Homo sapiens: one gene and its partners. The protein of the gene in region 4 interacts with the protein of the main gene of each other region in a pairwise test. Each region holds a gene or a part of one and is shown on either strand. Other genes may lie near its edges.

Region 1 (7,386 bases), on a different chromosome or scaffold from region 4:
GGGCACACTTACCTATCCAAAACCTGACTGGCACCTTATCCTATGGTATAAAAACCTCTGGGCTTGAAACAAAGGAGCACTTCTAAATTTTGGTACCAGAACCCAAAGTATGGCTTCTGTCTTTTTTTGGCTTACACATATTTCTATTAAGCGTGAACTGTGGCATGATAAATGAGTATTTTGTTCCATGATGGAATGTTCTAAATTGAAATATAGATTCCTTCAGTTATAGGAAATGATGACAATTTTCCATTAATTTTTTCAGTTCTTCCATTCCTCAATGATCGCCAAAGAACATATTCCCCCGAGGAGGAGTTTGAGAGTTTTGTTCAAACTCACAAAAAACTAAGACAGCTCAACTGTCTATTGGAGATCCTCTCCATGGGAGGTTTGGGCAGAAGGACAGTGATCCAGATGGAGGTCGGAGATGAGAAAGAGGAGCAAAGAAAGTAATAAAAGCATGGGTAAATATTTTTTTAATGACTATAAAAAGTAGTAAAATAATGATGCTTATTGAGATTAAAAGATACATTTAATACACTAGACAGTAATAGCATATTTGTCAAAAGAAGGGTTAATGGTGTTAAAGCAGTCTAAGGTCCTTGAGTTATCCAGAAGACAATCATTTTGATTAATTTTATATTTTAGACACTGTATGTTTTAATTTATTTAAAATAATAAAACTAAAGAGTAAAACATCTAAATTAGAGGGGAAAGGTGAAATAAAAAACATTTAGTAAATTTCACAGAAGGCAGGAAAAGGTTTTAAAAAGGAACATCTGAAACCCAAATTAAGATAGGTTTAAATCCATCATGAAGGTTATATGATAGTGGAGGAAACAAACAGCTAACGAGTCAAGTGAATATACATGTAATTTTACATAGCAATATATACTATGCAGAAAAACCCAACAGGGTAAAGCATTAGATGCTGCCTAGGAGGAGACTATTTTTAGGTAAGGGAAGACCTAAGATAGAAAGAGGAGGTAAGTAAGACTCCAAGGGTTTTTATCGTGAGCAATAACAGGTTGAGAAGGGAAGAGGAGCCAAGGAGACTGAGGAGACAGCCAGTGAAATGGGAGGAAGTGTTTCAAGAAGGATGGTATGATCAACTGTGAAATTAAGAATGCTTGGCTTATTTACTACAAACATCTCTCCCAGACCTGGAAACACAGCCAGTAGCAAGGTCAGTATTAAGTTACCACAAGGCCAGGCACAGTGGCTGATGCCTGTAATCCTAGCACTTGGGCAGGCCAAGAAAGGCGGATTGCTTGAGCCCAGGAGTTCAAGAGACCCGCCATGGGCAACATGGTGAAATTGCATCTCTACAAAATGTACGAAAAATTAGCCAGGCGTGGTTGCACGTGCCTGTAGTCCCAGCTATCTGGAAGGCTGGGGTGGAAGGACCACCTGTACTCCAGCCTTGGTGACAGAGTAAGACCTTGTCTCAACATCAACAACTGCAAAAGAGTTACCATAGACTCAACAGGGGACATATAAATCTACAGCGCACAGTGGCTAAACGCAAGGGTTCTGAGGCCAGACTATCTGAATTGTGGTTTAACCTCCTTCTAGTTGTGATCTGTGTGATCTTGGGTAAGTTATTTAATCACTCTGTGCTTTGGTATCCTCATCTGTAAAATGGGGATAAAGAATTTGTTTCCTCTAGTTGTCATGATTAAACGAGTTTTTTTTTTTGAGACAGGGTCTCACTCTGTTGCCCAGACTGGAATGCAGTGGCATGATAATAACTGTCTGCAGCCTCCCAACTCCTGTGCTCAAGTGATCCTCCCACCTCTGCCTCCTGAGTAGCTAGGGCTACATGTGCCTGCCACCCACCATGCCTGGCTAATTTTGTATATGTTTTGTAGAGATGGGGTCTGCCTACGTTGCCCAGGCTGGTCTCGAACTCCTGAGCTGAAGCAATCCTCCCACCTTGACCTCCCAAAGTGCTGGGATTACAGGTGTGAGCCACTGCACCCAGCCAATTTTTTTTTTTTTTTTTTTTTTGCGACGTCGTTTTGCTCTTGTTGCCCAGGCTGGAGTGCAATGGCGCAATCTCAGCTCACCGCAACTTCCGCCTCCCGAGTTCAAGCGATTCTCCTGCCTCAGCCTCCCGAGTAGCTGGGATTACATGAATGTGCCATCACATGCGGCTAATTTTGTAGTTTTAGTAGAGACGGGGTTTCTCCATGTTGGTCAGGCTGGTCTCGAACTCCCGACCTCAGGTGATCCGCCCGCCTCAGCCTCCCAAAGTGCTGGGATTATAGGTGTGAGCCACCACGCCTGGCCTCGAGTTAATATTTTTTAAAGCACTTAGAATACACCTGACATAAAGTAGTAACAATGTGTATCTTTGTTAAAATGAGAGAGAAATCCCCAAAATGGCAAAGATAGGAAAAACAACCATGCTTTTCAAGTACTGACTTGCATTTTCAGAAGGTTCAAATTGGCACTAGACTTAGGTAATTGAATTAATCAGCATGACTGATAGGATAACTATAGTCTGATAAAGAAAACACCATGAAGGGCAGGGTGCGGTGGCTCACGCCTGTAATCCCAGCACTTTGGGAGGCCGAGGTGGGCGGATCACCTGAGGTCGGGAGTTCGAGACCAGCCTGACCAACATGGAGAAACCCCATCTCTACTAAAAATACAAAATTAGCCAGGCGTGGTGGCGCATGCCTGTAATTCCAGCTACTTGGAAGGCTGAGGAGGAGAATTGCTTGAACCTGGGAGGAGGTTGGGGTGAGCCGAGATCGAGCCATTGCACTCCAGCAAGGCTCTGTCTCAAAAAAAAAAACAAAAACTATGAAGTAAATTATGGTTGAAACATGTTTAGTTCTTAACTGCAGTATCTTGCATTTAAGGTGTATGTTCATAACAAGTTATATTTCTATTGTCATAAAGAACGTTCTATTAAATGCTTACTGGCTCAGAATCCTATTACTTTTTGCCAGTTAGATTATGGCCGTTTCTCTTTTAGTCTAAAATAAACTCAGCTGAAAAGTAACAATAAACACTTTATGTATACAGATTAACAACAAAAAATAGAAGGTAACCTGCTTGGTGTTAGATATTGTAATAAGCCAAACAAGTAACTTTTGTGTAAACACTGAAGTAAGTGCTTTGAAGAATTCATAAAAGTTTATGACTCTAATTCATGTGAGAGATAAAATGCATATACATCAGAAGATTACACAATGAAAGTATATGGCTAACGACTAATGAATGATATAGTAAGTGTTAAAAGAGATAAGATGGGGCAGAGGTCACTACTGATTGTAAAAAGTTTCATGAATGAAGCGAGACTTTTATCTGGGTCTAGGAAAATGAAGTCGTTACAATCATTACATCTTAGTACAAGCAAGGAATCAAATAGTATGTCTCTCATGTGAACATTTTAAGTAAATAACTGGAGAAAGTACTTCAACAAAATAAGGGAGCAAAATAATGTTGGCTCAAAATGAGGTCGAAAAGTTGCAGGGCTCGGATCGTGTTGCTAAAGGCATAAATTTGGGAGTCCTCAAGCTGTAGCTAATAGTTAACGTCCAGAGAAGGTAGTGTATATTCCATAGCCTCATGCAAAGGAATTCCAACTACGAAGACGAACCAGTTAAGGAGACCGAAAAGGGGGGGCCTGTATGGAAAGGCATAGCAACGAATGTAAAATTTCCCCAATAATACTCTAAAACTGCCCCACAGCTTTTTTAATTTTGAAAATTCAAAACCATTCAATTCAGCTCGCAGATTTTTGTGAGAAATAAGGAGATACTTGCAGCTCAGAAAAAATTATTAACAACTATCTAGAAAGTTACTGCTTTATCCCCCACTGTAAACTATACTACCACGACCCGGGATCCTTGTTCGACTCCTAGCCAAGGGGTTCCCACTGCGTTTCTGTTGGGTTATCCCAAACCTGTGATAGGATAGTAGCGCCCTCCCTGCCTCCGGTCGAATAAACACTACAACGTCTGACACTCGGTGCTGAAAGGAAATCGGGCGCGGTGTCTTGCCCACAGCTTGGGGAGCGGCCCCGGGCGCAATAACTGTCACCGGCGCCGAGATGCGGTTCCGGCGCTTAGGGCGCCGCTAAACTCAGAGCCCGGGAGTCATGGCTGCGGGCGGTGCCGCCCCAGGTAAATCAGTCCAGGAGCAGGGCCCGGGCCTGGCGTACACTCTCGGAAAAATGGGGGCCAGAGCAAACAAGAAGAGCGAAAGCAAGAGGGCTAGGCAGCCAGAGGCGGCAGCAAGACTCAAGACGCCAACGGCGCCGTCTTCCTGGGGCCCCAGGGCCTGCGCCATCCCTGGGCTGCCGGGGCACCGCCTCTCCACGCCCCTCGTCCGGCGGCGGCTGCGACTGCTTCCGAGGTCATGTTCCCAGGACGGGCGCGTCTTCAGGGTGGAAGCCTGGCGCACGTCCGGAGGTGCCGAGGACCCAACCAGCCCAAACTCTGGGGGAAATGACTCCCCTCTGCCCTCGCCCCGCGCTCTGCTACCATTTCCTTACGTCTCTGCTTCGCTCAGCGATGCAAAACGCGCGAGGCGCACGGCAGAGGGCCGAAGCCGCGGTACTCTCCGGGCCAGGCCCGCCCCTCGGCCGCGCCGCGCAGCACGGGATTCCCCGGCCGCTGTCCAGCGCTGGCCGCCTGAGCCAAGGCTGCCGCGGAGCCAGTACAGTCGGGGCCGCTGGCTGGAAGGGCGAGCTTCCTAAGGCGGGGGGAAGCCCGGCGCCGGGGCCGGGTAGGAAAGGCGGGGGAGGGGCTCCGGCCGTCTGGAAGGAATCCACGCGGCTTGAGGCTGTGGGGGAAGTAGGGTGGCGAGCGGTCCTTCTGCGCGCGGGGGGCGGGGGGGGTGGGGTGGTCCATTAGGGTCCCCTGGCGAGGGGGCGGCTTTCTAGTGTGTGAGGGCGACGCCCTAGAAGCTCCCCTTCAAAGTTGGCCCCACGCGCTGAATGTGGAAAGTTGACTGGGACCCAGTAGTTTCCCATCCCAAACCTGCTTTCCGAGAAGGGCTTCAAACCCAAAATGTGAATCCCGCCTCCCCTCTCAGCCAGAACTGTGGACTCGTCCCGGGGAGGGGCGGTGGGTGGGGCGGGGCTGGCGGGAAATTTCGGTTTTGGCGCGCTCCCTGCGGCGACGCTCATCGTGCGCTCTCCTCTTCCCCCGGTGGTCTCCTCGCTCGCCTTCTGGCTCTGCCATGCCCTGCTCTGAAGAGACACCCGCCATTTCACCCAGTAAGCGGGCCCGGCCTGCGGAGGTGGGCGGCATGCAGCTCCGCTTTGCCCGGCTCTCCGAGCACGCCACGGCCCCCACCCGGGGCTCCGCGCGCGCCGCGGGCTACGACCTGTACAGGTGAGCGGGGACCTGCCGGCGAGGAGGCTGGGAAGGGCCGGCCGTCCGCTGCCACAGCTAGAAACAGTCACCGGAGAGATCACAGGAACACACTAGCTATAAATAGGATTTCTGCCTTTTTCGTGTTTAAAATTTTAGCTTTCATCTTTGGCATAAATTAAATAGAGATTTGGGCAAAGACTGCAGAATAAGTAAAATAGCTATACGGTGTCTAGCAAGGCGTTACTTTGCAACGTTTATTGTGCCCTTCCTAAATAGAAGATAGAGAGGAAGGCCCATGGTGGCTTTCGAGTGGCCCGAGGGTGATGCTGTGCTCAATAGAAAAACCAAGGTGAGAGCCTAGATGTGAGCGTGAAAATACCTAAGAAGGATGAACGAAGATGCATCTGCCTTAAAAAGTTATTTTCTATACATTCATCCGGCCCAGGGCGGAATTTGAGAAGGCATCTGAAAACGAAAGGCAGAGCTGCCTGTAATCTACCACACTTTCATCTCTACAGCACGTTTTACCTGTACTAAAAACTTTCCGTATGCTGTTGTATTTAGTCCTCACAACAATCCTTAACTAGATAAGTGTTACTTTTTACACAGGCAGGAGTTTGTGAAGAGCTGAATTGATTTCCCCAGAGGCTTGAAGATGATATAATTTTTTATCCCGAATTTTGGGCTTTTTTTTTTTCATCTGACTACTGTGCCCAGTTCTTAGAACCATTAAGGTAGGAGAAAAGTAATGCTGAGAGGGAAGGAGATTTTATACTAAATCCCAAGCATTGGGATTTATTTTAAAGTATCTCAGATAATTCAAACATGAGAACTATTAGTCTAAGCACAGGAGAAGAGAAAGTAGTGCCTGATGATAGCAACAGAAAAAAAAGGAAAAGGAAAGTAGGTATGGACAATTGTAGCTGGAAAAACTACAGTCTCTTAATTTTGATGAATAAAAGTAGAGTGATATAGTTTGACTAGACCTTTCCAAAGTATATTTTGGAGCACTTTCTTGAGTCCTAGGGGAGTCCTTGATTTAAGATACCTTAAGTAGACTCCTAATAAACACAGGTGACTTTCTGTATACTGAAATTGACATGGAAATAATGGATCAGCAATAAATTAGGGCTTAACTGTTTAAAGAGGGATTTCAGTGAAAGAAGGGGTAGTACTGCTTTACCAGAGTTAATTAAGGTCTCCAAAGTAAACTTCCGGTTCTGCTCATTGTAAAATCTCTTAAATTTCTACCCAGGAGAGGGCCACAGTAATATCAAGAGTAGCAGCATTTGCTATGTGGACTTTAGAGGAATTCTGTTCCTAAGCAAGGTCCATCTCCAGGGGCCGTTCACGGTGATCAGCTGTCTCCCTCAGCCAGGAAATTCATAGCCTAAGCTTGGTAAACTACCAAGCCCTGCCTGACAGATACAACACAGTTCTTTATCTCTTATTTTGTCCACCCGTTTTTCTCCTTTCCTTCTGCATATTTTCCCTAATCACACAGATCATTGTGAGAATAAAATGGGTTAATATATGTAAACCAATTAGAACTGTTCCTGGCACACAGTAAAGGCTTAATCAATGATAGCTAGTATTATTAGTAGTATTTGGCCTTTTTTCTTTGTTCTTTCTTCATTTTTTTCCTTTTCAAACTATGGTTGTAAAGCATCCACCTTTTGAAAGTTTGCCTTTCTGCCCTTTCACGCTGATAAGTACCTCAGTTTCCAATAAACTTTTGTTCAGGGGCAAACATTTACAATGTTGACATCTCTTCACACCACCAAAAATATTCATGGAGAATTATTTTATCTAAAGCTGTCTTTTTAATAATAAAATAGCCACCTCTACCTTCTTCATAAACTTTTAAGATGAATTGGTAATTCATCATAGCAAGGTTGATTTTAGAAACTAAAGTTGCATTAATTCATTAAATACACTGAAAGTAATTTTGTATGCTTGGTCACAAAGAAAATATAAAAACAATTTTATAAATAGATTTGCAGTTATTTTCTTTCAATATTTTCTTAGTGCCTATGATTACACAATACCA
Region 2 (6,993 bases), on a different chromosome or scaffold from region 4:
ACCTTCTCATGTACTTGAGATTTTCTTTCTCCATCAAATTCATATCTAGGACATTTGGCACATGTCTGGGACAATGACAGGCTCATTCTACTTTATGAGATTATTTAACATATGACTTGAAAGAGTTTATGTACATACCTATTCTTTCTGGGCAAGGAGAAAGCATGCTTAAAAAGATAAGCTTTAACAACAGTAACACTTTCAAACTGACTTTGGAATTCTTGGCAGTTACACACCACTCATTGCTATCCAAAGCATACACCACACACACACAAACACACACACACACACACACACACACACACACACACACACACGACAGTTCTCTCTCTCTCTCTCTCTCTCTGCCAAGCACAGACCTGGGAGATAGGCATAAACTGGTAGGAAGCAAAGGAAAAGTCAGTCTCCCTCCACCTGCTGCCTAAAGTGGGGGTGCTTTGGGCTGACTGGCAGACAGAAGCCTGGGACACAGCCTCAGCAGTAGACTGCCAATATCCTTAAGAAAAATAAACAAACACATACCAACTTGCCCCCACCCCCCACCCCAAGAACTCACATGGCAGGGCTCAAAAGAACAACAGCCCAATTCCCATTAGCCCAGACAATCCTATTAACCAGGACAACCATAAATTCATAAACCTCTCCAACCCTCGAGCAAGCATTGTGGTCTAGAGCTGTACAGACACACACAGACACAGAGGAAATTTGCACCTGTCTTTCTTGACACAACACACCTGTCAGGCCCTGCCCATGCGCACTCTGCTAATAGATTTCTGCCTACCTAGGTTAGGAAAGGAAATGAGTTCTTTTTTTTTTCTTTTCTTTCTTTTTTTTTTTTTTTTTAAATAAGGGAGGGCATGAGTGGAAAAGAGAACAGGAGAAGGGAGTCTTCTAGCCTTGACTTTGCGAGGAGGCCACCCTGTGCTTCCTCTGTTTTTATAAGCTCAAGGAGACAGCACAGATCTTCTCGGAAAAATAAAAACAAGCAGGTGAGTTTCCAGCCTTCCCCCAGGCAGAGTAGCCTTCTGGGTTGCCAAGAACAGCAGTTTCACACTCCAACCTGCCTCCTTGAGCTATTTAAGACTAAGCACCACCCCTCCTTCTAGTTCTGTTCTCTGTCTGCCTGGAGGGCTCTCAATTTCCCAAGAAGCTGGGAAGGGGCCAGAGACCTGGGAGTCTGTGGAAAGCTACTTACTCCTCCTTTACCATCCCCACGCTCCATCACTCCACCAACCTTCAGCTTCAGCAGGGGGAGTAACGGGCTGGCACACCAGAAGAATCAACAACTTGCTAAACTGGACTTTGGGTGATGTCTCCCCCCGCCCACTGCGTCCCCCTCCTGATCTGCTCAGGCAAGATAGCAGCTCTTCCCTCCCTCTTCCCGCCCTCCTCACTAGTCTTCCCAGTAACAATTACTCTCACCTCTCCTGTCCTCCCTCCCCAGTCCTCCTAACTGGGGCAAAACGGTAGGTACCACCCAGACGAGACCAGACCGAAGCTGCCCAACACCATAGTCTGCCAGCGATGGCTGGGAGATTCATCGCCTCCCATTTCTGCTGCCCAAGAACCCCCTACTCTTACCCGGCCCGCGATCCTCCGGTCCTCCTCGTGCTGGTGTCCCAATCCCACCGCCACGCGACCCCCCGAGCCTCCCGGTGCCGCCTTACCCTACTCAACTTGACCCAGCCCTGGGTCCAGGAGCTCGGAAGAGGGGCGCCGCGCGCGTTTCCCGGGACCCATCACCGCTCCCCTCCAAGCCGGATTTCCACAATTCGGCTTCGACAGCGTTTTGAGACGAAAGTAACAGAGCGCCCCCCCACCTCCCTCTCTCCTCCTCCCAGTTCCCGGTCCTCTGCTGGGGTTAAAAAAGGAGAAGTGAAAGGTATGCAAATGACAAGCAAATTGGAAGAGCCGGGAAGAAAGGCAGCTATAATAAACAAGACAAAGAGAAAGGACAAGGGGACCGGCCCCGGAGTTTTAGCCTGGGGAGATCGGAAGGATGGGGTTTGGCGGAAAGCGGGGATCTCCACGAACAAAAAAGCGACCCGGTCCCTCTCGCGGTCCTCTCTCCTGAGAAGAGAGAGCAGGAGAAAGAAGGAAAGGGAGCAAACGCCTCCTCACACCCCAGAAACAGTACACAAAAGGTGACAAGATCAGCGACAAGTCCAGCAACATCAGCCTCCCCCCCATCGCCACCGCCACCCCCAGCCACCAGCAGGAAAGAGAAAGAAATAAAAGCCAAGAGGATCACTTACTCTTAGGAACTGGGAGGAGCGGAGCGCTGAGTTCCACGGAGGCTCCCGCTTAGAAACTGTTTAGAGGCTATTTTATTATGATTCATTTGAATAACACCATTTTCTCCTGGGGGGAATAATGTTTACACGGGTCTGAGTAATGGGAGGCTCTTTTCTTCCTTTCTCATTCAAGAACAAGACAGTGCAAGTGATTCTGGAAAAGGGGAGGGACTCACGAGGGGAAGAAGAAGATACTTACGCGGTGCAGGGAGCAGTGGGACCGAGCCTCTCTCTCTCTCTCTCTCTCTCTCTCTCTATCTCTCTCTCTCTCTTTTTTTTCCCCCGGCAGAGAGAGGAAAACACGCGAGTGCACACACGGTGATATCTTGCGGGTGATGAATATGATAATTGGACAAGGGACGGTGAGTCTGTGCGACAGCGAGCGAGCGAGCGGGGCGAGTGGGAGAGGGAGAGGGGAGAGAGAGGCGGGAGGGGAGGGGAGACGAGAGAAGAGGAGCAGGGGAGAGGCGAGGAGAGGGAAGAAGAGGAGAAGAAAAGAAGAGGAGCTAAGGGAAGAGGAGAGAGCAGGAGAGGAGGAGAGAGAAGAGCGGGAGGAGAGGAGAGAGCAGCAGAGGAGGAGAGAGGAGAAGGGTAAAGAAGAGAAGAGGAGCGAAGCGGAGAGGGAGCAGGCGGACCCGGCGAGAGCTCTTTTGCGCCGCTCTGCTTTCCCCGGCTGCAATGGTGTATTATTTCAGAGCGCTCCCTCAGCTGAGGGCTCCGCTCCACAACAAGATTTACTTTAAGACACAGCTGAAGGAAACAGGAAGACTGCACGTCACAGTCTATCTGACGTACCCGGCCCCAGCACCCAATCGCGAGGCGCCTTCGGATTCAAGGGGGGATAGCAAGGCAAGAGAACTTGGGAGGAAAAAAAAATATAAAAGGGGTGGGGGTGAGGGGCTGGGAAGAGAGGAGGGGAGAGGGGCCCTGCGCTCCCCCTCCCCGGCCTCCATCCCCGGCCCCCACCCCCACCCCCACCCTGCCACAGCTTCGGGACGACTGGATCGCCGCGCCTGGGCCGGAGCGAGCCATCTGCGGGCACTATGCAAAGCGGGAGACGGCGCGAGCGGCGCCCGGCTCACACTAGCTCTTCCAGGACGCAGGTCTTTTTTTTTTTTTTTCTTTTTCTTTTTTCATTTCCCAGATACAGCTGATCGAGTTCGCCGAGTGGCCGAGCGAGTGAGCGCTCCTCCGACTTGGGTGGAGGAAGGCACGGAAAAGTATACGGGAGAAAAAGTGGGGGTTTTAGGGGTGGGGGTGGCATAGGAGGAGGGAGGGGGGGATCTGCAAATCATTCCACTTTTTAAACGATCATAGGTAGTGTCAAGGATACGTGTCACCCTTGGTTCCTTTTAAAGGGGAGGTGGACAATAAAATACAGGTAGGTTTGGTATTAAAATAATAGGTGCCAGAGGTTTCACATCGGGTCCGCTGCATCTGTTATTAGACGAAGATCAACATTGGCTGAGTCCCAGTTTATCTCCAGTCCAAATTATCAGGAAGAGGAATATTTACCCTTGGTTACCTCTGACATTAGTTGGATTGTAGGTAAAGCAGCCTTTAAAAATATATATGTTGCAAACATCTGGCGATTACCCTTCACTAATTCACTCGCCCCAGAAAGACCAAAGATAGCTGTTCAATACAGGATTTACACAGTTTTGACGCCTGGGCAACAAACTTTAAAGTTTATTAGGCAAGAAATTTCAAACGCATAAATCGCAGGCTCTAAAATAAAGCCCTAGAAAATTTACTTTGGTTTGACATTTCTTGCTTGAAAAATAACCAGCAAAATTTCTTTAGATAATGTGGCTCTTAAAGATCTCCTTGGGCTTTGCAAGTTACAAATGCAAGCGAGCCTCAGCCGCAGCTAGAACGTCCCTTTCACCGGGCACAGTAAACGGCTTTTAATAAAGCAGCCGCGTTTATGACCTAAAGATCCTATAAAAGCTGGGACTTGCAAGAGCTGCGAAGCAGAAACATTCATACATAGTCTATTAGACACTCATTTTTGTAAGTAGGAGGAGGACAAGTAGTCTTCGTGTGTCCCTCAAATTTAATCAGATCAAAGGTTGAATCATGCTGTGTCGTGACAACAGGGTATTTATGAGGTGTGTTACAAGTACACTGGCCAAACACTACCAATGTCTTCTGCGACACACACACACACACACTCCTTCCTAGGGAATTTACAATTTCAGCCTCAAATTCACCAAACCGTAAAGAGGATATTAAGCCCTCCCTTTGAATAAGAATAGCGATGTTAGTATGTCCGAGTCTATCCCGGCAGGAAACTTTTGGCACGAATTTCAAACAGTGAAAAGGAGAAAAAAAATTAGGTCGGTCAGGTTAGGTGTCGGCGATAAGAAAAGAGATTGCGGGAGCATCCCCAGCCTTCTTCTTTCCCCTTTTGCCGCCCCCACACACTCCCCCCACGCGTCTATCACGGAAGCAACACAGAGGAGCGCACACGCACCACTCACACCTCCAACTATTGACTGTTGTATCAGGTGTTCTAACCGGGATGTGACAGTTGAGGCTGGGAGCAGAAATAATCAACATGCCCATTAGATACAGGACGGAATAATGCTTCTATTGGTTGGGTCCCTTCGAGGTAAGCGGGTGTATTGAGCGGGGAAACTTGGGATCTGAGAATGGATCAAAGCTACTTTCTTTCTTATTTTTCGTCCTACTAGTTTTCTTTAAGAATCTTGGTTTGTACATATAAGTTAGCGCCAGCCCACAAATAAACTGGTAGGAGTAAGGGCTATATACCTTTCCACACCTTAAAACCATCTGCTCAGTTTGACATTTAAAAGGGCGGAGAGCAGAGAAGGAGGAGGGGGGAGTAGGGGGAAGAAAGGAGTCAGGGACAGAGAAAAAGATTCAAACGCGAAAAAAATGGCTTGCACTTTAGCCCACAAGTTTGTGTCAATTGCACATAGCGCTTGAATGCACGTTTTGCACACACCACGCCCGGGAACTGGCGGCGGGAAAAGTTCCCTGAGAACCCCAGTAAGTCCTGTGTCACGCCGTGGGCAAAAGCAGGCCTGAGTCGAAGTCGGGGTAACCCGCTTGCCGAACAAGGAAGCTCTCCCACCCCCAGCCTCGGCGGCAGAGGCTCCCGGCTCGCGACGCTCTGCCGCGGCGGTTCGCAGCCCGCATTAGGGCGCAGGAGCGGCGACTTGAAATAGGAGCGCGCGCCACGCTAGGCGAGCGAGATCGGTTCGCAGCCCAGCTCCGTGAGCTGCCTCGGCGCAGCCCTGTCCCGTGTCCTGTCCTCTACTGTCGGGGAGGCGTACAGGCCAGGCTCCTGGCAACCTCTCTTGCTAGAGCTGCGGCATTCTCCTGGGTCTCGGGCTGCCCTGGACAAGACTTGAGGCCCGAGCCCCCTATCTCGGGCGACTCCCGCTTTGTTTTCTGATAGGGGAGAAGCCTGGAGACAAGGAGTCGCCTAGATATTGGCTCCATCTCTGAAACCAGCCGCCAAGCCTAGGGTTAAGACAACTCCTCCCTCCGCCCCACTTCCAACACAACCCCAGTAACTTAGAAGTTAACGCAAGTTCTGACCGGTCTTGTAACACACTCTATCCGTGCAGGTTGCATTTACTTATTTATCTGAAGGGTGATCTGTGTGTTCTTAGACAAACTCGCAGTTATCACCCATGCATCTGGTTCTGGGTTAAATACACTTCGCCTTGACATTTGCTCGGTGTATGCTCACGCCTCCTGTTCTTTCTTAAAGCTGTTAGGTGGGGGCAGGAGGGAAGACAGTGTGTATAAGTAATTTAAAACCTTACAAACAACTGTTATCAGATCCTAAACAAACCAATTCTGAGAATTACAACCAGATTCAGTTGAGAGGCAAAAGTGGACGTGGATTTTGGAAAAGGGTGCCTAAGGACTTCCAGGTCAGCCACCCACCGCTACCACCACCACCACCGCCACCACTACCACCATCACTATCAGCACCCTGAAGAAGGGAAGAGAGGAAAACCAACCCCAGGGTGCAGGCCTGCCTGCTGCAAGCTTTCTAGAGGCAAAACTGACTGACGGCCTCTCACTCTCATCTCCTGTGCTCAGTGTGACGCCAAGCCCAACCTGGATTTGTTCTGAATGGGGGGGAAGTGAAATGCCACAAGATCAGTAGCAAGTAGCAGCTGCAGCGTTTTCTCTCCTGGGAACCCCACTGCTTAGAAGCCTCCTGAGTGATGTTTGTTTAACCAACAGCTTTCAAAGTAAACAGAAGCCAATCACTCCAAAGAAGTTGAAATATAACCCTTACAAGAATTTGGATCCAGGGGTGCTGGCAGAAAGAAAGTAATTTTTAAAATGATAAAGAACCCACTCCCAAATAAGAGTCTGCCACATTGCTTTAAGGAGCGCAGAATTGTCATGAAAATATAATTTCATCGAAAGGGCTAATTACAATAAGTTGACCTCGAAGAAAATCACTCTTCGCCCACAAAGACACACCCGCGGGGATGAGGAGGTTGTCAGTGATTGAAGGGACACACTACTACTTGATTTTATGGAAGTGGGCGAAAACAATCAAAGGGAAGTACATTCCCTGCCCTGGAGTAGTGAAGTGTAGGCTGGGAGCTCTTCGCCGCCAACCCTGGCTTTGCCTCAGGCACCGAACTTTCCAATACCAAGATATTAACAGATGGTGGTGAGCACATGGAGGGCTGCTACTTAC
Region 3 (7,021 bases), on a different chromosome or scaffold from region 4:
AAAAAAAAAAAAAAAGAAAGTTATCTTTTTCTAGTGATATAAATGCATAGTGGAGCTAAAGACAGAACCTATGTGGGTTACACAGAAAGCCATCGATTTGAGATCTGCTCATAATATTTAAATAGCTTAAAGAAGAGGTGTTTACATCTATTTTTATGAAATTTATTTCCAAATTGAAGAGGCAGTGTATATAAAGGTAACAGAGCTTGTGATAATTTACAGAAATGTTTGCTACAACATGCACATTATGAAGTATTTCAAACATATACATATTAGGTTTCATGCTGAATAAATAATCCCCCCAAATTAATTTTTATTTTTACATAAAAATATAATATTGCACTCTTAACAAGACCAGTTATTCTGCATATTTTCTCTTTAGATAAATGATGAAATTCGGTTTTTAAAAAAAGATGAGTAGCAACCCTATTCTAATAGGGGACTAATTTAAAGTTCTCAGTAAAAAAATGAAAGCTAGACAATAGCTGCAATTTTTTGTTAACAAAGCAAATCACTTCAACGTGAATAGGAGTAATCTCATCTCTGCACCTCCATGGACCTCAGGATTCACACCTGGCCTGAGCACACGGTGATCTAAATGCAGCCTAGGTATCACTACATGTGTATGCAGTTTAAGGTTAAAGCATACATGGCCACGTGCTTTCTCTCGAATCTATCTTGACAGCAGAGACTTTGGAATTATATTTTATATGGTTTTTAAGCAGAATGTTTTAGAAAGTCTGGAAGTTACAAAAGTAGTACTGTAAACACCATATGAATTAAATTTCCATAACAAATGCACAAGTTATTCTTAGGCAGGGATACATATTTTTATCCCATGGTAACATATTACTGAGCTTATCTGACAGTGTTTTCAAAGCCAATAAAGCAGCACCCCAAGTAAAAATATACAGACAGCCATCATATGGGAGAGACAGACGGCTCCAAGATGTTTAGGAATTCTGTCTTTATGGTATGTAAGTTTGCTGTGGAATACACGAGATTTTATTATTCTTCCTAGAATTCTCAGATGGTATAGGTTAGTAGAAACAGAATGAAATGGTTTCCTAAAAGAATTATTCTGCCTCCTGTTTAAAGTAAGCTTTTATAATTCTGTTTTGGGGAAGAAAATTCTTCCTGCAGATTAGATCAAATGCCTTATTTAGGCTGTGTTCTTAATACCCATGCAAACTTCTTGCATACTGAAGGCTTTCTATTGCAAATTGGTACAGATTCAATGCTCTGTAAATAGCAGACTTTAAGACTTACCATTGTGTTTAAACCTCAGTGACTCAACTAAGGATAGTCAATATCTAGCGTTACAGATTTTAAGTAAAATTTTTATGAAGAAACAGAATGTGTCTGAAATCCAAGATACCTGTATTCTTGTTTGTGGCTGTCAAAAAAATTCTGGTTCTCCTTTGAGCTAAGAAAGCAACTGGCAAAAACTGCCTAATTTTGAGATTCATTCATAGTTTATTTTAGTATTTAGATATTCCATAAAATATTTGGTACAGAGGCACCTACTGAATAATTTGCTTCTCAAAGAAAGCAATTATCAAGTCCTAAAAATTATCTTTTTTTCTTTCCTCTTTTGGAGCATGTGTGTGTGGTGGGAGGAGTATTTCATGGCAGTAAACTTTTAAAATATAATTTTAGTGTGTTTTATATAAACAATCAACCAACCAATTTAAATTCTACTGGTCCTTTTGGAATCATAGAAAAAGGGGAGACCTTAATATTTTCTTTGGAATACCTTGGTGGGAAAAAATTTTAAGAATATCATTTTAATGTACCATGCGAGGCTTAAAACTTGTTGGCTAGTGCATATTGACACAATCTTCCAGATTATCACTAAAATAGAACAGAACTTTCCTCTTAGGATCATGTGACTCTTCAGAATTTTGTGCAGATGAATAGACTTTATCATTATTTGGATGGTTTGTCCAGTCATCCATTTCTTTAGGTTCAACCTCCTAAAACTGGTGAAGTCAACAAATCTAGTTTGGAGTTAAAGTGCTTTGGAGAACGTGAAGTTCATTCGCATTCACCCGGCTGCATAGCTGCTAAGGAAGGAATAGAACATTGGCTGTTTCAAGCGCTGCTGGTCCTTCCGACACCAGGCAATCACGGTCCCATCACTGTTTGCTGTGTACAAATGGTGGCCATCACAAGAAAATGTAAGGCTGTAAAAAAAAAAAAATTCCCATTTGTACATTATATTTCTTAAAAGTGTATTAGCATATTGGTCATCATACTGAGGTTAGTGTAAAGAAGTTATCTTCAGTGGCGCAGAGAGACATAAACTAAATGACTGCCTACAACTCATTGGTTTTGACTGTAATTCTAACATAGTCACTCTGCTGACAAGTTGAGATGCTCATAAATGCGGTGATATAGAATAAAATCAGGATCACAAAGCTCAGTACATTCTATTCTTTGCATATCTTCTTTTGCCTCCTTGTTTATGCTTTATTACATAAACAACAAATATTTGGGTGTACAAAACTTTTAAAAATATAACAGTACTATATTTTCTCCTTATAAAGATAAATAAGTATTTTATGGCTATATATTATTTCCCTAAAAGAGAAAAGGAAAAAAATGTAACATTAGTAATTAATTTAGGTTCCTTAAACTTTAAATTTAGTACACTGAAAATACATTTAATTTAATAAAGTAAAATTTGAATCACTTTATTTCTAATTATTTAAAGTCAAATTTGTTAACTAAGCAAAGAGTAACTGATTATTTATCTATTTTGTCAAGCACCCCTGCAGCTATCAATCACCATTATGGTCTTGTCAAATATGAAAGGAAAAAATACAGTCTCTATGATTCCAGAGACACACTACAAGCATGCCTTTCCACTAGACTCTGAGTCACTGACTCGGATTTTAAGCTCCATGAAGACAAGGAGTGTGGTCTCTCTTGCTGCTGGGTCACGGACAACCCGCTGTGTGTTAAGTGGTTGGCTTTTCATGATGACTTCAATTGCACATTTCTTTAAGTCTGTGTGCTTAAATACCTCTCTACGAAAAATACAATCACAAATTGTATTCTGAAGCATAAGAGGGGGAGAAGATCTTACCTGATGATGGGCTTATTTGATTTGGGAAATGTAATTTCTCTCACAGGCTTTAAGTCCCATGTGCTCCATAACCTAGAGGGGAAAAAAATCATCTAATTATGCAAACTAAAATTACTCTCCCTAAAAAGCCCTCTATATTTGTTTATTTGTTAAAAATCATGTGGAAGGAAATGTAACAAACAATTAACAGTAGTTCCCTCTAGGGAGTTTGCAGGGGGTAGATGTGGGAATAAGAGAACTTTTAACTTTGTATACTTCCATACTGTTAATCTTTTATAGTTAACATAAAACTTCAAAACTGTGCTAAAGCTATCTTTATTATTTAGAAATAAAACAGGAATAACTAAAGAACCTACACCCCAAGGTGAGTTTAAATCTCTAAATACTGAATATTAATATGCCTAGATATTAAAAATTAATTTCTGAAACTCCTGTGTCCTTATGAATGAAATCAAAAAAAGAGAATCCAAATTCCTCTTACCTTACAATTCCATTTTCTAATCCCCCAGCGATTACATTGATAGATACTCCCTCAGGCTGGTTGGAGAAAGCCACGGAACAGATGATCTCCCTGCAGTGGACATGTCCAACGAGATCCCCGTTCACCGTCCAGAGTCTGAGGTCACTGCCTCCGCCAGCTAAAACACCCAAATCATCCGGCGGGTTACCAGAATGTGGCTGTCTCAGAGCCCACATTTGGCCCCAGAAGGGCAACCCTGAAGGGCAAGCTCATTTGTTTATTGATGAAGTTTGTAGACAACCCATGACTGAAGACTGTATAAATGAAATTACTACACAAGTTGCACAGATTTTTCTTTTTCATTTTCTTTTGAGACAGAGTCTAACTCTGTCGCCCAGGCTGGAGTGCAGTGGTGTGATCTTGGCTCACTGTAACTGCCTCCTGAATTCAAGAGATTCTTCTGCCTCAGCCTTCTAAGTTGCTGGGACAACAGGTGCACGCCACCACATCCGGCTAATTTTTATATTTTTAGTAGAAATGGGTTTTTGCCATGTTGGCTAGGCTAGTCTTGAACTCCTGACCTCAAGTGATCAGCCCACCTCGGCCTCCCAAAGTGCTGGGATTACAGGCGTGAGCCACTGCACCAGGCCAAGTTGCATAGATCTTTATGTATTAATCAAGAGACAATAACCAGCGAAAAAATAAAAATAAGAAGAAGCAATCTATGTGTACAGTAACAAGGTAAAATAATCATCTTTGTGTAATTGTAATATTTCAGCATATGAACCACCAAATATGAGTTATGATTGAAAATACTTGGAAAGCTAAACAGTCTCCAAAAAGTGAAGGAAATATTCTGTGAAACCATCTATAAGAAGTGACTTGGCCAGGCGTGGTGCCTCATGCCTGTAATCCCAGCACTTTTGGAGGCCGAGGCGGGTGGATCACCTGAAGTCAGGAGTTCGAGACCAGCCTAGTTAACATGGTGAAACCCCATCTCTACTAAAAATACAAAAAAATTAGCCAGGGGTGGTGGCGGGCGCCTGTAGTTCCAGCTACTAGGGAGGCTGAGGCAGAAGAATCACTTGAACCCAGGAGGTGGAGGTTGCAGTGAGCCGAGATAGTGCCACTGCACTCCAGCCTGGGCGACAGAGCAGAGACTCTATCTCAAAAAAAAAAAAAAAAAAAGTGACTTATGTGACTTTTGAAGAAAAAAAAAGGTGTAGTAAAAATTACCTGAGTTAAAACTTAATTCTTAAAAAAAGAAGAAAAAGTATTCTTCAGAACATCTAAGATTAAATCTTATAAAGCAATACCTTATTAATTTTTTCTTTTCAAAGATTACAGAGTAACCAAAAGTTTTTCTTTTAGTTTTCTGGGGTTGGGGGAAGCATAATTGCCTGCCATGCTTTATAAACAGGATGGTTTGGGGGCTGATGATGATATGTCCAGCCTTCTCTGGGGAAATACTCTCATACTGATAAAGCGGTTAGGAGGCACGATAAAGTTTGATGACATAGTCTCACTACATTTAATTTTATCTTTTCATTACATATAAGTAGAGGCTTTGCTTCTGTCTTTTATTAAGACAATGAAAATATTTCATATTTTATAGCAAAGAAACATATAAACAATGCTTCTTTATTTAAAAATATGCCAAAGACCGCCAAATACCACAGATCAAAATGCCCAGTGTGTTGCAGCATTATTCACAATAGCCAAGAAGAGGAAACAACCTAAATGTCTATCAACAGATGCATAAACAAAATGCAGTATGTACATACACACACACACACACACACACACACACACACACACACACACACAATTTTCTTTAGCCGTAAAAAGGAATGAAGCATGCGAAAACATGGATGAACCCTGAAAACATCATGCTAAGTGAAATAAGCCAGACACAAACAGACAGGTACTGTATGATTCCACTTACATAAAATATCTACAATGGGCAAATTCAGAGAGATAGAAAGTAAAATAGAGGTTACCAGGGGCTGGAAGCTGAGGGAGGAGGAATGGGGAAATAGTGGTGATGGCTGCACAACACTGTTAATATAATTAATGCCACTGAACTGAATACTTAAAAAATGGCTGGAATGGCAAATTTTATTTAAATATACATTGAGACACACATGCACACACACACACACATACACACACACACACACACACACACACACATGCCCAATGTTCTACTAAGTTTTCCCATTGTAGAACATTGATTATATCTAAATATAGCATCAAGATGCAGGAGACTCAGTATGCTAAAGAAATAGAATTATAGACAATATTTTCCATGAGTAGGCTACATTTCAACCTTTCTTTTGAATTAAATGTTGGCTAAAATATTTTTTTAAAAGATAAAATAATTAGATAAGTACTAGTAAGGCTAGAAGGCTCATTGAAGTCACTGGAAACATAGCCATAAAAGATATTGAGGTAGGGGTTTCTCGCTGTAACCCATAGCTACCACTACTGCATGGCTTAATCCTTCAAAATAAAAAATCTAAATGTGGGCCTGGACTCTCAAGTATGGCCTGGAACTTAGTAGCCAAAGAATTATCCTAGCAGCTCACTCAGTAACTTGGGCTACCACAAAACCAAATAACTACTCATCTGCCTACTTCTGTAAGTATCAAAATTTGACAGTTACCCAATACCAGATTGCTCGAATGTATAATTTAACACATCAACTAAAAGTCAGAAACCTAGGCATTCCTAAAAAGCATCTCTATCCTTCGTATACACAGTCATGAAAATCAAAATAAATTAAAGAACCACCCCACTGTGAATCTTAGAATATTTTACTAACTCTATCTTGCCATTGGCAACAGAGGACCAGGCTATGGATGTCTCACCTTAGTTCAAAGGCATATATTTTGATCCAGTGATAGAATGGTAAACACACATACAACCCCCCCAGAAATCACTGATTACATTTTCACAGTTTAATACATTTCACATCTTATCACTATAAAAACCATATCCCATCATAAGAACTGAGAAATTATGATCAGGAGGAATGAGCTTGACAATGTAACTTTTGAGAAGATGTTACACATACAGCACAGGCACATAATATAGTTGTCCCTAGGTATCTGAGAGGGATTGGTTCCAGGACCCCTGAGGATATCAAAATCCATGGATGCTCAAGTCCTTGATATAAAATGGTGTAGTATTTGCATATAACCTCTGCACATCCTCCTGTATTCTTTTTTTTTTTTCTTTTGAGATGGAGTCTCGCTCTGTTGCCCAGACTGGAGTGCAGCGGTACAATCTCAGCTCACTGCAACCTCCGCTTCCTTCAAGCGATTCTCCTGCCTCAGCCTCCTGGGTAGCTGGGACTACAGGCGAGTGCCACCATGTCTGGCTAAATTTTTGAATTTTTAGTAGAGATGGGGTTTCACTGTGTTAGCCAGGATGGTTTTGATCTCCTGATCTCGTGATCTACCCACCTC
Region 4 (7,670 bases):
CCACAAGCCGGAGGAACTGGACGAGCACGCGCTGGTGGAGCTGGAGTTGCACCGCGGCAGCTCCATGGAAATCAATCTGGGGGAGAAGGACACTGCATCCCAGATCGAGGCCGGTCAGTGTGGCCTCGCCAGGCCGTGGGCACCCGCAGGGCAATAAGCTGGCCAGGGACTCAATTTCTGGAGCTGTAAAATGGGGGGAAGCTGATGGGATCCAAGTTTCTAGGATTCTCTGGGAGAGGCGCCCGCGCCAATCTTTCGCCCTTTAAATCCGCCAGGCATTCTTGGAGCGCCCCCTCCCGGGCAGGCGTTGTAACAGGCCTTTCGGTCGTGACGCGCAGAGTCCGGGGAAGGACGCACCAAATAAATTGCGCAAAGACCCCGTGGTAGGACCTGCGGGGTTTTTTTGTTTTGTTTGTTTTGTTTTGTTTTGTTTTTGAGACAGGATCTCACTCTGTCGCCCAGGCTGGATGGAGTGCAGTGGTGCGATTATAGCTCACTGCAGTTCAAGTGATCCTCCCGCCTCCCACTTTTTTTTTTTTTTTTTTTTTTGAGACGGAGTCTCGCTGTGTCGCCCAGACTGGAGTGCAATGGCACGATCTCTGCTCGCTGCAACCTCCGCCTCCCGAGTAGCTGGGATTACAGGCGCGCGCCACCACGTGCGGCTAATTTTTGTATTTTTAGTAGAGACGGAGTTTCACCATGTTGGCCAGGCTGGTCTCGAACTCCTGACCTCAAGTGATCCGCCGGCCTCGGCCTCCCAAAGTGCTGGAATTACAGGCTTGAGTCACTGCGCCCGGCCTTTGTTTTTTAGAGATGACGTCCTGCTTTGTCACCCAGGCTGGAGTGCAGTGTTGTGATCATAGCTCACTACAGCCTCAAACTCCTAGGCTCAAGGTATCCTCCAACCTCAGCCACCCCCACCACCCCGAGCTGGGAGGACAGGCCGGCACCATCCTGCTCAGCTAATTTTTTATTTTTTGTAGAGAAAATTTCGACATGTTGCCCCAGCTGGTCTCAAACTCCTGGGCTCAAGTGATCCTCCTGCTTCGGCTTCCCAAAGTATTGGGATTACAAGTGTGAGCCACCATGCCCGGCGAGACCTGTGTTTTTAATGGAATCATCCCACCAGTTGCAAGAGTTAACTCCTTGTCTTATGATTTGCGCTGGTTGAGGAGGTGTACGTCTTTCCATTAGTCAGTTGCTGGTTACAATTTCTAAGCCCCTACTACGTGCTGGGCACTGTCTGGCACCCCCTCAAACTACTTCATCAGAGAGTAAGAACCAATAACAGTATAACAATGGTTACATATTGAGCACTTGCTGTGTGCCAGGCACGGGGCTTCCCCTGGATTGTCACCTTCAAACTTCACAACCTCCATAAAGAGCTATTTATTTTTTATTTATTTATTTTTATTATATTTTTTGAGACGGGGTCTCACTCTGTCGCCCAGGCTGGAGTGCAGTGGTGCCATCTCGGCTCACTGCAAGCTCTGCCTCCCAGGTTCACACCATTCTCCTGCCTCAGCCTCTGGAGTGGCTGGGACTACAGGCGCCTGCCAGCACGCCCGGCTAATTTTTTGTATTTTTAGTAGAGACAGCGTTTCACCTTGTTAGCCAGGATGGTCTCAATCTCCTGACCTCGTGATCCGCCCACCTCGGCCTCCCAAAGTGCTGGGATTACAGGCGTGAGCCAACCGCGCTCGGCTATTTATTTTTGAGTCAGATTCTCACTCTGTTGCCCATGCTGGAGTGCAATGGTGCGATCTTGGCTCACTGCAACTTCCGCCTCCCCGGTTCAAGCAATTCTCCTGCCTCAGCCTCCTGAGTAGCTGGGATTACAGGTGCCTGCCACTATGCCTGGCTAATTTTTGTATTTTTAGTAGAGACGGTGTTTCACCATATTGGCCAGGCTGGTCTTGAACTCCTGATCTTGTGATCTGCCCACCTTGGCCTCCCGAAGTGCCTGGATTACAGGCGTGAGCCACCACTTGGCCAAGAGCCAAGAGCTGTTCTTTTTTTTTTTTTTTTTTTTAGTTTTTTTTTGAGACAGAGTCTCACTTCTTCACCCAGGCTGGAGTGCAGATGTACGATCTCGGCTCAGTGCAAGCTCCGCCTCCCTGGTTCAAGTGATTCTCCTGCCTCAGCCTCCCGAGTAGCTGGGATTACAGGCACTTGCCAGCAAGCCCGGCTAATTTTTGTATTTTTAGTAGAGACGGGGGTTTCACCATGTTGGCCAGGTTGGTCTCGAACTCCTGACCTTGTGATCCGCCCACATTGGCCTCCCAAAGTGCTAGGATTACAGGCATGAGCCACCGTGCCCGGCCAAGAGCTGTTCTTATTACCCCATTTTACTGATGAAGAACTTGAGGGTCAGAGAGTGTCAGTCACTGGTCCTAAGTGTCACACTGTGGGGCAGTCATTACTGGAACCATGTGGGTGGGGCTCTAAAGCCCAGGGTTGTAACCTCTGTCCCATGCTGACCCCAAGGCTGCACCAGGAGCTGGTCTCTGAAGGCCATTCCCTCTCACAAGGTGCCTACCCATCTCCTGTGCTCCAGGGAAGGCCCAGGAGTCTGCGGATGACTAACCCTTTTTTCTCTTCTCCCAGAAAAGTCTTCCTCAATGTCATCACTCAATATTGCGAAGCACATGCCCCATCGAGCCTACTGGGCAGAGCAGCAGAGCAGGGTTGGAGGGGCTGGGGAGACTGGGCGTTTCGGTGGGGTAGGGGATAGGCAAATTGGGGGTTGATAGGATATGAAAGTTGGGGGTGGTTGGCAGGGTGGAGGGGCAGGCAGGCTGGTTGGGGGTTTGGGGGCCACAGGGAGGAGGTGGGGGCATTTCAGCTGTGGGCAGAGATGAAGTACCTGGACGCCTAAGCCTCTTGCTGCTTCTCCAGCTGCCACTGCCCCTGATGGAACTCATGGAGAATGAAGCTCTGGAAATCCTCACCAAAGCCCTCCGGAGTAAGCTCCCCGCCAACCCCCAAGAACTCCCACGACAGATTCTGGTGGATTTTGCAGGGCTGGGGCCCAGGGGGGTGGGGTTTCAGGGTGCCTTATGTCTTGTCAGATGCCCTTGGCACTCACAAGTATTCCAAGGGCCCCATAAAAGTTAAAAGCTGAGGGACTGGGCACAGGAAGACCCAGTGGGGGACATGTGGTGATGGGCAGAGGCCTGGGCTCCAGGCTGAGTGCAGCCCCTCTCCAGCTGAGGGAGGCTTTTCTGTGGCTGTTTCTCCACCTGCACAGTGGGATGACCGCCTTGGTGTGGCCTCGACTGCCTCTGGTTGGGGAGTTGTGAGGAGCCTTTGGACAGTGGATTATGTGGGTGAACTTTTGCTGCTGTGGTAGGAAAGCCCAGCGGTGATAAAGGGCCAGCTGATGGCTTAGAGTGGGTGGCTGGTCCAGAAGGTGGGCAAACTGCTCGCTACCACCGCCCTAGTTCAGGCCTGCAACCTCTTCCCTAGCCTTGACCTCATCCATCCTCCACCTTAACACTCAGCACCCTTAGAGATGCAAAGTTCCCCAGGCTAACACAGACCTGAGTGCCCTGCGCTACTGCTACCTCGAATCATCTGCGGTTCCTCGAATCACACATGCGGCGCCCCCTGGTGGGGAGACCTTTCGGTTGCTCACTGCCCTGAGCCGAGCTCTGCCCTCCTCCTAGGCTACCAGTTAGGGATCGGCAGGGACCACTTCCTGACTAAGGAGCTGCAGCGATACATCGAAGGGCTCAAGAAGCGCCGGAGCAAGAGGCTGTACGTGAATTAAAAACGCCACCTTGGGCTCGAGCAGCGACCCGAACCAGCCCCGTGCCAGCCCGGTCCCCAGACCCAAGCCTGACCCCATCCGAGTGGAATTTGAGTCCTAAAGAAATAAAAGAGTCGATGCATGGTCCGTGAGTCAGTGCAGGACAGCCCGCGTGAGGCGGACGCACGTGGCCCCGCCCTTCCCCGTGACCTTCATTCGGTCACCGCAGTGACCTTCATTCGGTCACCGCAGTGACCTTGAGCTTTCTCCGTCCGGGCCCTATCGGCCCTACCTTCCGGGACTCGCAATCCAGGACTTATTGCATGTTTTAAGTCGGCTTCACCCACCCCGAGTTCCGCAGCTCTGTGGGGCTACTGGGTCTACGGTTCGAGTGCTCAGTTGGTGTCGCTTTGGGGGAAGGGGGTAGGGGGAACGGGGCAGCACCTCCCTCCTCGCGACGGCGCGCTAGGCTCCGCCCCTCAAGCATAGGTAGCAGGTCCAGCCTCTCCGCTCGTCCCGCCCTTGCGTTTTCATCTGTAAGTGGTCTCTTGGCTCCGCGACTGCAGCCTGCACCGCCTCGCCCACTCCTCTCGCGCGCAGCAAGCCCCGCCTCCTCCGTTACGAAAGAGCGCTTCTGGCCCCACTTGCTCTCGGCTCTATTGTCCCCGCCCTCCGCGTCTCCGGCCCCGCCCCTCCCAGGGGCCGCGTACGCATGTGCGCCGCAGTGGCTCGGCGGGCTGCGGGGCGGGACCTGCACGAAGGCCCGCCCACTGGCGCTGCCGGCTCCGCCCCGACTCGTCCGGGCGCGCAGGCGCCGCCCGCCCCGCTGGTCTGATTAGCATAGGACCCCGGGCCCCGCCCCCTGCTTTGCATGCGCACGGCCGGCCCCACCCCCGCTGTCAGCTGGAGGAAGCGGAGTAGGAAGCGGCCGCGATGTCCTTTTGTGTCCTACAAGCAGCCGGCGGCGCCGCCGAGTGAGGGGACGCGGCGCGGTGGGGCGGCGCGGCCCGAGGAGGCGGCGGAGGAGGGGCCGCCCGCGGCCCCCGGCTCACTCCGGCACTCCGGGCCGCTCGGCCCCCATGCCTGCCCGACCGCGCTGCCGGAGCCCCAGGTCCGGGGGCGGAGGGGAGCGCTGCCGCGGGGGTGGGCGGGCGGGGCGCGGGGGCCATGTGCGAGCGCGGCAGGGAGGCGGGCGGGGCGGGCTGCAGGCGGGGTCCGACTCTGGGGCCAGTCCGGGCCACGGTTGGGACCCAGTCGAGGGTCGGACTGGTCAGGGTTCAGGCGGGATCCGGCGTCCGAGTCCTGGTGGGCCGGCCTGGGGCAGGATCTGGCTCTGGCTGCGGGTCCTGACTCGGGTCAGGGTTGGGCCTCCGATCCAGCCCGCTCCGGGGCAGGGTTCAATCCCGCATTTGCCGAAGTCCCTGGGGCTGGCCGGGGTGGAAGACGGGGAGGGCTCTATGTCTGGGAAGGGGCTCTGAAGACCACGTGGGGGCGCTCGAAGGGGCCTGGGGCCACCCTCCTCTCTGGGTCAAAGGTCATCGCACCGGCAGGGGAGAACTTCCTCCTCCTTGGCTCTCCCCACTTACTTCCTGATAACCTGGTAGAGGTCTCCCGCGGGCGGGGAGGGGGAGGCGTAGCAACTTTAGGCAACTTCCCAAAGGTGTGCGCAGGTTGGGGGCGGGACGCGGCGCCCCGGGAGGTGGCGGCCTCTGCGACAGCGGGAGTATAAGAGTGGACCTGCAGGCTGGTCGCGAGGAGGTGGAGCGGCGCCCGCCGTGTGCCTGGGACCGGCATGCTGGGGCAGGAGGGCAGCCGCGTGTCAGGTGTGAAAAGCTCTGGAGGTGTTTTCATGAGTCCGTGCCTGTGCGTGTGGATGTGGGGAGACCTAGTGAGAGTGTGTGTGATCATGAGCCTTGACTGAGTTCGTGGATGGGGTGTGCGCTCCAGGAGAAGTGTGTGAGCACAAGTGTGAGCAGGAGTGAGCACGGGTTTGGGAAGGCCGGTGCAAGTGTGAAAGCCCTCAGCAGAGAGCGAGCCTGCGTGGGCTTGTGGGGCTCCTGAGCACCCCGGTGAGTGGAGTGTGTGAACTCGGTGTGAGCACGTCCACTGGCCTTGGGTCTGCTCTCCAATGCAGAATACCCAGATGAGGGCAGGGTCTCAGAGGTCCCCCCAACATCTGGAGAAAACTGGGAAGTATCCTGCTCCTGGCTAGGGATTCCAGGTGGGGTTGAAGGTTGCCTGGGGGCTACGGTTACCCTGCTCCCTGGCCTGGGTGGGAGTAGGGGCTTTCTAAGCCTCCCCCAGGTTCCCAAGGGGGAGACCTGCTGTCAGTTACTGGCCCTGAAGACTCTGTTTCCATGGCAACAGCTAGGAGGGGGCAGTGTTCCTGGGCAGTCCTTCCTTGGACTCTGCCCCCCTTCTTCCCCACTTGCTGGGCTTGGAAGCCTGGCCCTAGGCCCGAGGTTGGGCAACCCGTGTGGCAGGGTGTCTCCCATCCCCCATACCAGTGCTTTCCTGCGAACCTATGGGTCTCTCCGTGCAGGTGACCAGCGCCATGTCCAGCCAGGTGGTGGGCATTGAGCCTCTCTACATCAAGGCAGAGCCGGCCAGCCCTGACAGTCCAAAGGGTTCCTCGGAGACAGAGACCGAGCCTCCTGTGGCCCTGGCCCCTGGTCCAGCTCCCACTCGCTGCCTCCCAGGCCACAAGGAAGAGGAGGATGGGGAGGGGGCTGGGCCTGGCGAGCAGGGCGGTGGGAAGCTGGTGCTCAGCTCCCTGCCCAAGCGCCTCTGCCTGGTCTGTGGGGACGTGGCCTCCGGCTACCACTATGGTGTGGCATCCTGTGAGGCCTGCAAAGCCTTCTTCAAGAGGACCATCCAGGGTGAGCCCCCAGCCCACTCCCCTGTCCTTTGCCCTGCACCCTCTGGGTACACTGCTGGGTGCAATAGGCCCCCTGATGGCTGTGGCACCGCTTGAGGCTAACAATCTGGTGTTTCCAGTCCCTCTACCTCCCAGAGACACTCTTTCCCTGAGAAGTATGGTAAAAGCACCGGGTGTGCTGATGCATTGCAGTGGATGTGAGTGAGTTCAGGGTACCACCTGGGTACTCTAGGCCCAGCACCTTCTACAGTGGCTCTGAAAGAGTCCAAGGCAGCCTCTGTCTGTTCCTAAGCTTTGTTCTTGTTTCTGGCAGCTTCTGACCTCTCCCCAGCATAGAACATGTCCCCTTTTTGTTAATTTTCCCAAAGCAGCACCAACACAAGGCAGATTTTAATTTTTTTTTTTTTGAGACAGAGTCTCACTCTGTTGTTCAGGCTAGAGTGCAGTGGCACAATCTCTGCTCACTGCAACCTTTGCCCCTGGGTTCAAGAGATTCTCCTGCCTCAGCCTCCTGAGTAGCTGAGACTGCAGGTGTGCACCACCACGCCCAGCTAATTTTTGTATTTTTAGTAGAGACGACGTTTCACCATGTCGGCCAGGCTGGTCTGGAATTCCTGACCACAAATGATCCACCTGCCTCGGCCTCCCAAAACAAGGCAGATTTTTATCAGTACTTGAGAGGGGCTACATCATAGTTTAGCACCCAACTTTAAAAAGACTAACAGGCAAGGCCGGACACAGTTGCTCACACCTGTAATCCCAGCACTTTGGGAGGCCAAGGTGGGCGGATCACCTGAGGTCAGGAGATCGAGACCAGCCTGGCCAGGGTGGTGAAACCGCATCTCTACTAAAAATGCAAAAAATTAGCTGGGCATGGTGGCTCGCGCCTGTAATCTCAGCTACTTGCTACTTGAGAGGCTGAGGCAGGAGAATTGCTTGAACCCAGGAGGCAGAGGTTGCAGTGAGCCAAGATCACACCACTGTACTCCAGCCTGGGTGACAGAGCGAGATTCCATCTCAAAAAAAAAAAAAAAAGGCCGG

The links.
Region 1: the proteins of ESRRA (region 4) and DUT interact in a two-hybrid assay, tested with the Homo sapiens proteins (one study listed by BioGRID).
Region 2: the proteins of ESRRA (region 4) and PROX1 interact in a two-hybrid assay, tested with the Homo sapiens proteins (one study listed by BioGRID).
Region 3: the proteins of ESRRA (region 4) and LYST interact in a two-hybrid assay, tested with the Homo sapiens proteins (one study listed by BioGRID).

What each region holds. Positions count from the first base shown.
Region 1 is NC_000015.10:48,327,053-48,334,438, forward strand, and holds the start of DUT (deoxyuridine 5'-triphosphate nucleotidohydrolase, mitochondrial isoform 1 precursor), read left to right. Parts: upstream 1-4,376; 5' UTR 4,377-4,463; coding exon 4,464-4,743; exon of another isoform or gene 4,744-4,804; intron 4,805-5,144; exon of another isoform or gene 5,145-5,199; coding exon of another isoform or gene 5,200-5,215; coding exon 5,216-5,354; intron 5,355-7,364; coding exon 7,365-7,386. UniProt on the Homo sapiens protein: Catalyzes the cleavage of 2'-deoxyuridine 5'-triphosphate (dUTP) into 2'-deoxyuridine 5'-monophosphate (dUMP) and inorganic pyrophosphate and through its action efficiently prevents uracil misincorporation into DNA and at the same time provides dUMP, the substrate for de novo thymidylate biosynthesis.
Region 2 is NC_000001.11:213,983,984-213,990,976, reverse strand, and holds the start of PROX1 (prospero homeobox protein 1), read right to left. Parts: upstream 3,005-6,993; 5' UTR 2,494-3,004; intron 2,445-2,493; exon of another isoform or gene 2,256-2,444; intron 1,775-2,255; exon of another isoform or gene 1,668-1,774; intron 1,312-1,667; exon of another isoform or gene 3-1,311; intron 1-2. UniProt on the Homo sapiens protein: Transcription factor involved in developmental processes such as cell fate determination, gene transcriptional regulation and progenitor cell regulation in a number of organs.
Region 3 is NC_000001.11:235,660,893-235,667,913, forward strand, and holds the end of LYST (lysosomal-trafficking regulator), read right to left. Parts: intron 3,730-7,021; coding exon 3,573-3,729; intron 3,164-3,572; coding exon 3,092-3,163; intron 2,187-3,091; coding exon 2,048-2,186; 3' UTR 149-2,047; downstream 1-148. UniProt on the Homo sapiens protein: Adapter protein that regulates and/or fission of intracellular vesicles such as lysosomes. Might regulate trafficking of effectors involved in exocytosis.
Region 4 is NC_000011.10:64,300,875-64,308,544, forward strand, and holds the start of ESRRA (steroid hormone receptor ERR1), read left to right. Parts: upstream 1-4,649; 5' UTR 4,650-4,862; intron 4,863-5,003; exon of another isoform or gene 5,004-6,275; coding exon of another isoform or gene 6,276-6,305; coding exon 6,306-6,630; intron 6,631-7,670. Other genes in the region: CATSPERZ (cation channel sperm-associated auxiliary subunit zeta), read left to right, coding at 1-113, 2,608-2,687, 2,899-2,965, 3,669-3,772. UniProt on the Homo sapiens protein: Binds to an ERR-alpha response element (ERRE) containing a single consensus half-site, 5'-TNAAGGTCA-3'. Can bind to the medium-chain acyl coenzyme A dehydrogenase (MCAD) response element NRRE-1 and may act as an important regulator of MCAD promoter.